Linked DNA regions of Homo sapiens: region 1 is linked to region 2. The links come from fine-mapping of genetic effects on gene expression. A gene starts in region 2. The other region holds a variant in brackets. All regions are shown on one strand. Distances are between the middles of the regions.

Region 1 (4,363 bases), 38 kb after region 2:
GAGTTAGTGTGTGAATGAGTGGGTTAGTGTGTGAATGAGTCGGGTTAGTGTGTGAATGACTGGGTGGGTTAGTGTATGAATGAGTGTGTGAATGGGTGAGTTAGTGTGTGAACGAGTGGGCGAGTTAGTGTGTGAATGGGTGAGTTAGTGTGTGAATGAGTGGCTGAACGACTGTGAATGGGTGTGTGAACGAGTGGGTTAGTGTGTGAATGAATGGGTGAGTTCGTGTGTGAATGAGTGGGTAAGTGTGTGAATGAGTCGGGTTAGTGTGTGAATGTATGAATGAGTGGGTGGGTCAATGTGTGAATGAGTTAGTGTGAATGAGTGGGTGAGTTAGTGTGTGAACGAGTGGGTGAGTTTGTGTGAATGAGTGGGCGAGTTAGTGTGTGAATGGGTCAGTGTTTTGGTGTGTGAACGAGTGGGTGAGTTAGTGTGTGAATGAGTGGGTTAGTGTGTGAATGAGGGAGTTAGTGTGTGAGTGGGTTTGTGAACGAGTGGGTTAGTATGTGAATGAGTGGGTGAGTTAGTGCATGACTGAGTGGGTGAGTTGGTGTGTGAATGAGTGGGTTAGTGCATGAATGGGTGGGTTATTGTGTGGATGAGTGTGAATGGGTGTGTGAACGAGTGGGTTAGTGTGTGAATGAGTGGGTTAGTGTGTGAGAGTGTGTGAGGGTGTGTGAATGAGGGGGTTAGTGTGAACGAGTGGGCGAGTTTGTGAATGAGTGGGCGAGTTAGTGTGTGAATGAGTGGGTGTGTGAATGAGTGGATGTTATTGTGTGAATGAGTGGGTGTGTGAACGAGTGGGTTAGTGTGTGAATGAGTGGGTGAGTTAGCGTGTGAATGAGGGATTTAGTGTGTGGGTGTGTGAACGAGTGGGCGAGTTAGTGTGTGAATGAGTGGGTTAGTGTGTGAATGGGTGTGTGAGTGGGTTAGTGTGTGTATGGGTGTGTGAACGAGTGGGTTAGTGTGTGAATGAATGGGTTAGTGTGTGAATGAGTCAGTGGGTTAGTGTATGAATGTGTGTGAGTGGGTGGGTTAGTGTGTGAATGAGTGGGTGAGTTAGTGTGTCAATGAGTGGGTGAGTTTGTGAATGAGTGTGTGTGAACAACTGGGTGAGTGTGTGAATGAGTGGGTGAGTGTGTGAATGAGTGGGTTAGTGTGTGAATGAGTGGGTTTGTGAATGAGCCGGTGGGTTAGTGTGTGAATGAGTTAGTGTGTGAATGAGTGGGTGGGTTAGTGTGTGAATGAGTTAATGTGTGAATGAGTGGGTGAGTTACTTTGTGAACGAGTGGGCGAGTTAGTGTGTGAATGGGTTAGTGTGTGAATGAGTGGGTGTGTGAAGGAGTGGGTGAGTTACTATGTGAATGAATGGGTGAGTTAGCGTGTGAATGGGTGGGTTAGTTTGTGAATGAATGGGTGAGTTAGTGTGTGAGTTGGTTAGTGTGTGAATGAGTCGGTGGGTTAGTGTGTGAATGAGTTCGTGTGTGAATGGGTGAGTTAGTGTGAATGAATGGGCGAGTTAGTGTGTGAATGAGTGGGTTAGTGTGTGAATGAGCGGGTATGTGAACGAGTGGGTTAGTGTGTAAATGAGTGGGTGTGTGAATGAGTGGGTGTTTGTGTGAATGAATGGGAGAGTTAGTGTGTGAATGGGTGAGTTAGTGTGTGAATGAGCGGGTGTGTGAACAAGTGGGTTAGTGTGTAAATGAGTGGGTGTGTGAATGAGTGGGTTAGTGTGTGAATGAGTGGGTTAGTGTGTGAATGAGTGGGTTAGTGTGTGAATGAGTGGGTTAGTGTGCAAATGAATGGGTGAGTTTGTGAATGGGTTAGTGTATGAATGAGTCGGTTTAGTGTGTGAATGAGTGTGTGAATGAGTAGGTAAGTTAGTGCGTGAACGAGTGGGTGAGTTAGTGTGTGAATGAGTCGGTGAGTTAGTGTGTGAATGAATGGGTTAGTGTGTGAATGAGTGGGTGGGTTAGTGTGTGAATGGATGAGTTAGTGTGTGAATGAGTGGGTTAGTGTGTGAATGAGTCGGTGGGTTAGTGTGTGAATGAGTGGGTGGGTTAGTGTATGAATGTGTGAATGGGTGAGTGTGTGAATGGGCAAGTTAGTGTGTGAATGGGTTAGTGTGTGAATGGTCGAACGAGTGTGTGTGTGAATGGTTGTGTGAACGAGTGGGTTAGTGTGTGAATGGGTGAGTTCGTGTGTGAATGTGGGTGTGTGTCGGGTTAGTGTGTGAATGTGTGAATGAGTGGGTGGGTCAATGTGTGAATGAGTTAGTGTGAATAAGTGGGTTAGTGTGTGAACGAGTAGGCGAGTTAGTGTGTGAATGGGTTAGTGTGTGAATGGGTCAGTGTGTGAGTGGATGTGTGAACGAGTGGGTGAGTTTGTGAATAGGTGTGTGAATGAGTGGGTTAGTGTGTGAATGGAGTTTGTGGGTGTGTGAACGAGTGGGTTAGTGTGTGTTAGTGTGTGAATGGGTGAGTTGGTGTGTGAATGAGTGGGTTAGTGTGTGAATGAGTGGGTGGGTTATTGTGTGA[ATGAG/A]TGAGTGGGTTAGTGTGTGAGGGAGTTAGTGTGTGAGTGGGTGTGTGAACGAGTGGGTTAGTATGTGAATGAGTGGGTTAGTGTGTGACTGGGTGAGTTGGTGTGTGAATGGGTTAGTGCATGAATGGGTGGGTTATTGTGTGGATGAGTGTGTGAATGGGTGTGTGAACGAGTGGGTTAGTGTGTGAATGGGTTAGTGTGAGTGTGTTAGTGTGTGAATGAGGGTGTGTGAATGAGGGGGTGTGTGAACGAATGGGCGAGTTTGTGAATGGGTGTGTGAATGAGTGGATGAGTTGTGTGAATGGGTGTGTGAACGAGTGGGTGAGTGTGTGAATGAGTGGGTTAGTGTGTGAATGAGGGATTTAGTGTGAGTGGGTGTGTGAACGAGTGGGTTTGTGAATGAGCGGGTGTGTGTGAATGAGTGGGTGAGTTGGTGTGTGAATGAGTGGGTTAGTGCGTGAATGAGTGGGTGGGTTAGTGTGTGAATGAGTGGGTGTGTGAACGAGTGGGCGAGTTTGTGAATGGGTGTGTGAACGAGTGGGTTAGTGTGTGAATGGGTTAGTGAATGGGCTAGTGTGTGTCAGTGGGTTAATGTGTGAATGAGTTGGTGAATGTGTGAACGAGTGGGCGTTAGTGTGTGAATGAGGGTGTGTGAACGAGTGGGTGGGTTAGTGAATGAGTGTGCGAATGAGTGGGTAAGTGTGTGAATGAGTGGGTGAGTTAGTGTATGAGTGGGCAAGTTAGTGTGTGAATGGGTGGGTGAGTTGAGTGGGTGTGTGAACAAGTGGGTTAGTGTGTGAATGAGTGGGTTAGTGTGTGAGTGGATTAGTGTGTGAATGAGTGGGTGGGTTTGTGAATGAGTGGGTTAGTGTGTGAACGAGTGGGCAAGTTAGTGTGTGAATGAGTGGGCGAGTTAGCGTGTGAATGGGCGAGTTAAGTGTGTGAATGAGTGGGTGACTGCTCTAGCCGAGTTCTTGCTCCTTGGGAAGCACCGGCCAAGGCTAGGAAGCAGCCTGGTTTTTGGGGTCCCAGGGAAGGGGACACCTAGGGGTTTCTGGCTGGGCCCTGGTCCCAGATGTGTAGGCATCAGTGGGTCTCCAAACCTCCCTGCTGGAATTTGTGAGCATCTGGCCCTCAGGACAGTAGGCCCACCCCAGCCGGCCGCTCCCGTGCTCTGAGTCCCGGGTGTGGATGCCTGGGTGCAGCCAGCACTCACCCCTCGGGGGTCCGAGGACGACGCTGCTCTCACGGTCACTCTCCTGTGACCCGAGAGCCAGAGCAGGACCCGCCACCCTCCTGTGCCGTGTCCCTTCCTGTCCACCATGTGTCAGGCCCACTGGACACGGTGCCCGGCAGCTTCACACACACAATTCGCCCTTCGTCGTGCACGAGGCAGTGTTCCAGCATGTTCAGTCACATAAGCTTCACCACAGCCATTTCGGAACATTTTCACCCAAAAAGAAATCCATACCCTGTAAGCAGCCTCCCCCCATCCCCCATCTCCCCCCATTCCCCTTGACCCACCCCCAGCACCCGCCAGTGCACCCCCTGCCTCTGTGCCTGGCCCACTCTGGCATTTCGTGTTAAGTGCAGTCCCACAGCGTGAGACCCTTTGTGTCTAGCTTCCTCCCGAGCGTGAGGCTTCCAAGCTTGGCTCCTGGTTCTAGCTGAGAGGCCTGCAGCAGGCACGGCCCACATGGACTCAGCATGTTCTCGGGCTGCATCCATTTTGGCTGCTGTGAACTTGCGTGCACCCGTTCCTGAGGCTGTGCCACACACCAGGAGTGGACCTGCCGGGGAAGGGGCGGCTCTGTCTCTCACA
Region 2 (4,369 bases):
GCTCCCAGCCACACAGGGGACACGAGCCCACCAGCAGATCTTCACCCAGGGTGGCTCATCGGTCCTCATGTAAGGGCAGGATTTAGAGGCACGGGAAGGGCTGCAATCCTCAGGCTGTGCTACTTTGCATAACATGTAACACTATCATCCTCACACACTCACTAGGACCCTGAGACCACAGAAGATGGCATTGTTACCTTCCAAATTGGGAGTTAAAGTCCACTTGGGGTAGCGCAAGGGAGAGAGGAGGGGCCGAAAGAGCCTGGGAGGGTGGCCCTGGCCCTGAATCTGGACGCCTGGACGCTATACACAAGGGCGCTCTGAGCCCATCGCAGGCACGGCCTGGCCGGGTGCAACCCTGCTACCAGGTGCCAGAGCTGTCTGCCTGCAGGAAGTGGCCCCTCCACTAGGGTTCTTCAGAGGATGGTGGGAATGGCTCGCAGGCAAGACTACTCCCAGGAGGGTCCGTGTGCCCTTGTTCATGTGCTCGCCCACAGCTCATGTATCTGCGGACAGCCAGCAGGGGAGGCTGCTGGGGTGGGGGGCGGGCCTCTGGTTTAACTTTCCGTTTTGCCACTGAGCAGCCTAGGCCTCTGTAAAATCGTGTGATGGCGGCATCTGCCCCGAGGATGGTCTGAGAATGGGAGGCAGTAATTGGAGTGAAAGGGCTTGGCTGGACGTCAGCTCCAGAGGTGCAAGTCAGCACTGGGCAGCCGCGGAGCTGCGCTGCTCAGCTGTGAGACAGGGCTCCAGCCAGGGGAGTGGGAACAGAGAGACCGGGTGGGACCTGGGCCAGCTTAGCGGAGGCCTGGCAGGGCCGGAGCTGGGCAGGTGAGGGGTCCCGCACCGCCAGCCTCGGAGCTCCAACTCCAGGGACGGGAGCTGCCCTGGCAGAAGGTGGGGTCACCCACTGAGGTTGGAGACGTGGGCGTGGCAACAGCCCGTGGGGAAAATGCTGAGCTAGCTCTTGAAAGGCTGGGGAGATACAATGTATCAATGCAACAGGGCGTGGCAGGGAGGAGAGTCATGGGTAGGGAAGGGAGAAATGTCCCAGAAACAGGAGCAAGTTAGGGTTCCAGGAGGAAGTGAGGGAAGAAGGTTCCTCTGAAGGTAAATAAGGAAGAGAGCCCTGAGGTACCCAGCAGGGTAGGAGGCAGAGAGGGGGTCCAGTGAAGGGTACTGAGGGACGGGTCTCCAGAGCCAGCTGGAGGAGCTTGAGATGAGGCCAGGGAGGTAGCAGCTGAAGCCACTGAGTTGGACACGTGGAGGAGGCAGCGCAGGTGGCCAGGCTTGGGGCTCCTGGGAGGCTCCAACACCCTCAAGGCACAGGTCGGAGGAGACCCTGCTCAAACCAAGGACAAAGTGAGGGGGTGCAGGGCCCTTCCAGCCGGGGCCGGGGGGGGCCAACGCTGGTTCTTCATCAATTTGGAGCGCCAGGAGAGGGCGGGGATCTAGTCCTGCCGGATACCACCCCCCTTTGGGCTGCCCACACCCCCACCCCCTCTCCAGCAGCCAAGGGAGGCGGGTCCTCCCTTTCAAAGGGAGGTGCCCTCAGGCTCCTCTGGAATTGGGGATCCCTTGACCCAGGACGGCCTGGTGAGGGGTCGGAGCTGACTCCCGCCAGGCTCCGCTGCAGCACCTGACCGCCCCCACAGGTGGCCGGGCCGGGTCCTCATCGCTGGTGGGGCTCCAGGCTGGGAACGGGGGTCGAGGCCGATGCGCTGCGGGCAGCGGCCGCCGGGGGCGCTGCGGGGGCCGCGGTTAAAGCCCCGGCGCGGGCGCACGCGCTCAGAGGGAGCCGGGCCGCCGTCGCTGCCGCCGCTGTCCCCGCGCCCTGCGCCCGGTGGCCCCCCACCTCCGCCCCGCGGCCGTACCTGGCGCCCCCTGGCTCCCCCGGCCCCCGCGCGGCGTGGAGCCATCTTCCCTCACCTCCTACCGGCACCCTAGCTTGCTCCCGGCCCATGCGGCCCCCGCGGGCTCCCGGCCCCGGCTTCAGAACTCAGCCCTGCACCTGAGCGCGGGGCCCGGCGGGGCGTGGCGGCGGCGATGGGGAAACTGCAGTCGAAGCACGGTGAGCCGCGGGCCGGTAGGGCGGGAGGGCGGGCGGGCGGGCGTGGGGCCGCCTCTCACTGTCGTTTTCCTCTCCCCGCGTCCCGCCGTGCCGCAGCCGCCGCCGCCCGCAAGCGGAGAGAGAGCCCGGAAGGTGAGCGGGCGAGCCGACGGGCGGGGCGGGGGGCGGCGACCCGGCCCGGGACCCTCAGAGCTAGGAGCCCGCGCGCGTCCTGCCCTGGAGCCAGCAGTGGGGGGACGGGGCCGCGGGTCTCCAGGAGCGCGCGGGACCCCCACGCCTGCCCCTGCGCGGTCTCCAGGCGATGGGGACACAGCGAAGGCGCAGCGCCCGCGGGGCTCACGGCGCGTCTCTTTCCCTCCTCGGTGCGGGTTTCCCGCGCGTCCGCCCCCGGACCGCAGGGGACAGCTTCGTGGCGTCCGCGTACGCGAGCGGCCGCAAAGGCGCGGAGGAAGCGGAGCGGCGCGCGCGGGACAAGCAGGTAGGCGGCGGGGCGGAGGCTGGGGTCGCGCTGCGCACCCGCCCGGGGGCGGGGAGCGGTGTCAGAGCTGTTCCTGGTGCCCGCCCGCGGACAGGCGAGACGTGGGCCGCCATGGCCGCACGAGTGACCGGGGGCCAGGAGAGCCAGTCTCTCCCCAGCCTCCACGACGTCTGGGGCTCCCGTGGGGCGAGCCCTTGCTAGTGTCCCATGCTGAGTGGCGGGTAGGGGAATCGGAATTCCTTGTCCTAGGCTGGGAGCCGTGTGGGGGCTCCATGTTTCGGGCTGGAGGAGCTGGGCGAGTGGGAGGGGCTGGACCTAGACGTCCCGGGCTGGGGGTCCCGGGGAGCGGGAATGCAGTACCCCGGCTGGATGAGCTGGAGGAGTTGGAGGAGGGGTGGGAGCTACAGACCTGGGGCATCACTGGTCATAGCCTCAGTGCTCAATCAGCAAACATGGCCAGAGTCAGAGGCCTCGGTGCCTCCCATCTCTGGGAGGGGTGACCACAGGCCTGCTAGAGGCTCAGGAGACAGAGGGACATCTGCACAGCTGTGGCAAGGCTGCAGAGACTGCAAGGCTGGCTCAAGAGCCAGGCGGCCCTGAGGGTGGGTGAGGAAGGTGCTATGTCCAGGAGCAGAGAACTGTCCAGGTCTGGGGCCCTGGAAGGGCCTGGGGTAAATTAGACCTGCATGTTTGCTGAGCGTGAGAAAGCTAACATTTGATGGTCATCAGTGTCAGTGTGAACTGTATCGGTGCAGACAGCCCCACCAGGTGGCCAGGCCCACACTTGCCCCTTGCTTCCTCCCCCACTGTCCCCAGAGGTCCCCAGACACAGAACATGCCGGGTCACGCAATCAGTTTCCTTTTTGGAAAGACATTGTTCTGGCAGTTGATTAAAAAAAGTTCTGGGTGTGTTTGGAGACATTTTCTGCAGCTCTGTCTTGAGAAGGGGCTTAGGTCTGCTTGGAAATTAACATGCAATAGAGTTAGGATTGGTGCTTCCTGAGAGTGACCATCTAACGCCTGTGATGGTGGGAAGCACGCTGTAAGGTACAGTAAGTTGGGTGGTCCTGTGAGCCTCTATCCGGGACAGGGAGACCAGGGTGAGGTCATCCAGGGAGCTGTCCCCGCCCCAATCTGGCTCTCTCTGCCAGTTACATTTGCACAGGGGCTTGCTGGTGAGTGGATGGTGCCACTTAGCAGCCAGGTGCTCCTGGTATGATTAGTCAGTGATGTGAGCACCTGGGGTGGGCGGGCGTTCACCTCTCTCGTGGTCAGGGCTTTGGCCGGCCCCTGTCCATTGGCCCACTGGCCTGGAGCCTTCTCCCTGGGAGGCGCTGCACCATGAACCTTAAAATCCCTGAGCCAGCGCCCTCACCATGAAGTGCAGCTCCCAGGGCCATGGGGCAAGGCCAGTGCGCTCTGGAAAATGCAGGTGCTCCTCATGTGACTACGATGTCAGCGTGAGGGCTGCTCGTGGGCGTTTAGACCTGCCACTCTACACTGGGACATTTTCTTTAGAGAATAGCTTGGGAATTGGGGCTTGCTTGGATTGTTACCTTCTAATTTTGCCATCATTTCATGAAAGAAAACTCCTTTCTAAGTTAAAATGAACAAACTCAGAATCAAAGGCTGTCCTGTGAATTAAATACATTTCAGCTTTCAGACAAAAGTGCTGCCTTTCTGTATTTTCCGCCTCTGGCCATGACTCCTCCCACCTGGCATGGAGACCCCAGGGCCCAGGTGCGCCCTCACCTGGCCAAGTGCCCTCCCTGCCACATTGCTGTTCCTCTCACCTGGCAGCTGTTCCCCCTGCGACAGAT

Direction of the effects. Positions count from the first base shown, and alleles are read on the strand shown. Sizes are in standard deviations (SD) of each study's normalised expression.
For the expression in sun-exposed skin of the gene that starts at base 1,791 in region 2, allele A in region 1 goes with a lower level than allele ATGAG (small effect, 0.25 SD a copy in GTEx).

Evidence for each region. PIP is the estimated chance that this variant, and not a neighbour inherited with it, causes the effect. A credible set is the group of variants that fine-mapping cannot tell apart.
Region 1: its variant is the best candidate, but not a certain one, in a credible set for the expression of NKD2 in sun-exposed skin (GTEx, PIP 0.62).

Annotation. Positions count from the first base shown.
Region 1 is chr5:1,045,309-1,049,671 of GRCh38, forward strand. No RefSeq gene overlaps it. Among named protein-coding and RNA genes, the nearest start is that of MIR4635, 15 kb to the right of the region's middle. The variant ATGAG/A (reference allele first, on the strand shown) is at 2,538.
Region 2 is chr5:1,007,012-1,011,380 of GRCh38, forward strand. It overlaps NKD2 (NKD inhibitor of Wnt signaling pathway 2), which reads left to right and starts at 1,791. Exons shown (of 10, transcript NM_033120.4): 1 at 1,791-2,071; 2 at 2,168-2,203; 3 at 2,470-2,549. The coding sequence starts at 2,047. RefSeq lists enhancers at 287-1,052, 1,053-1,818.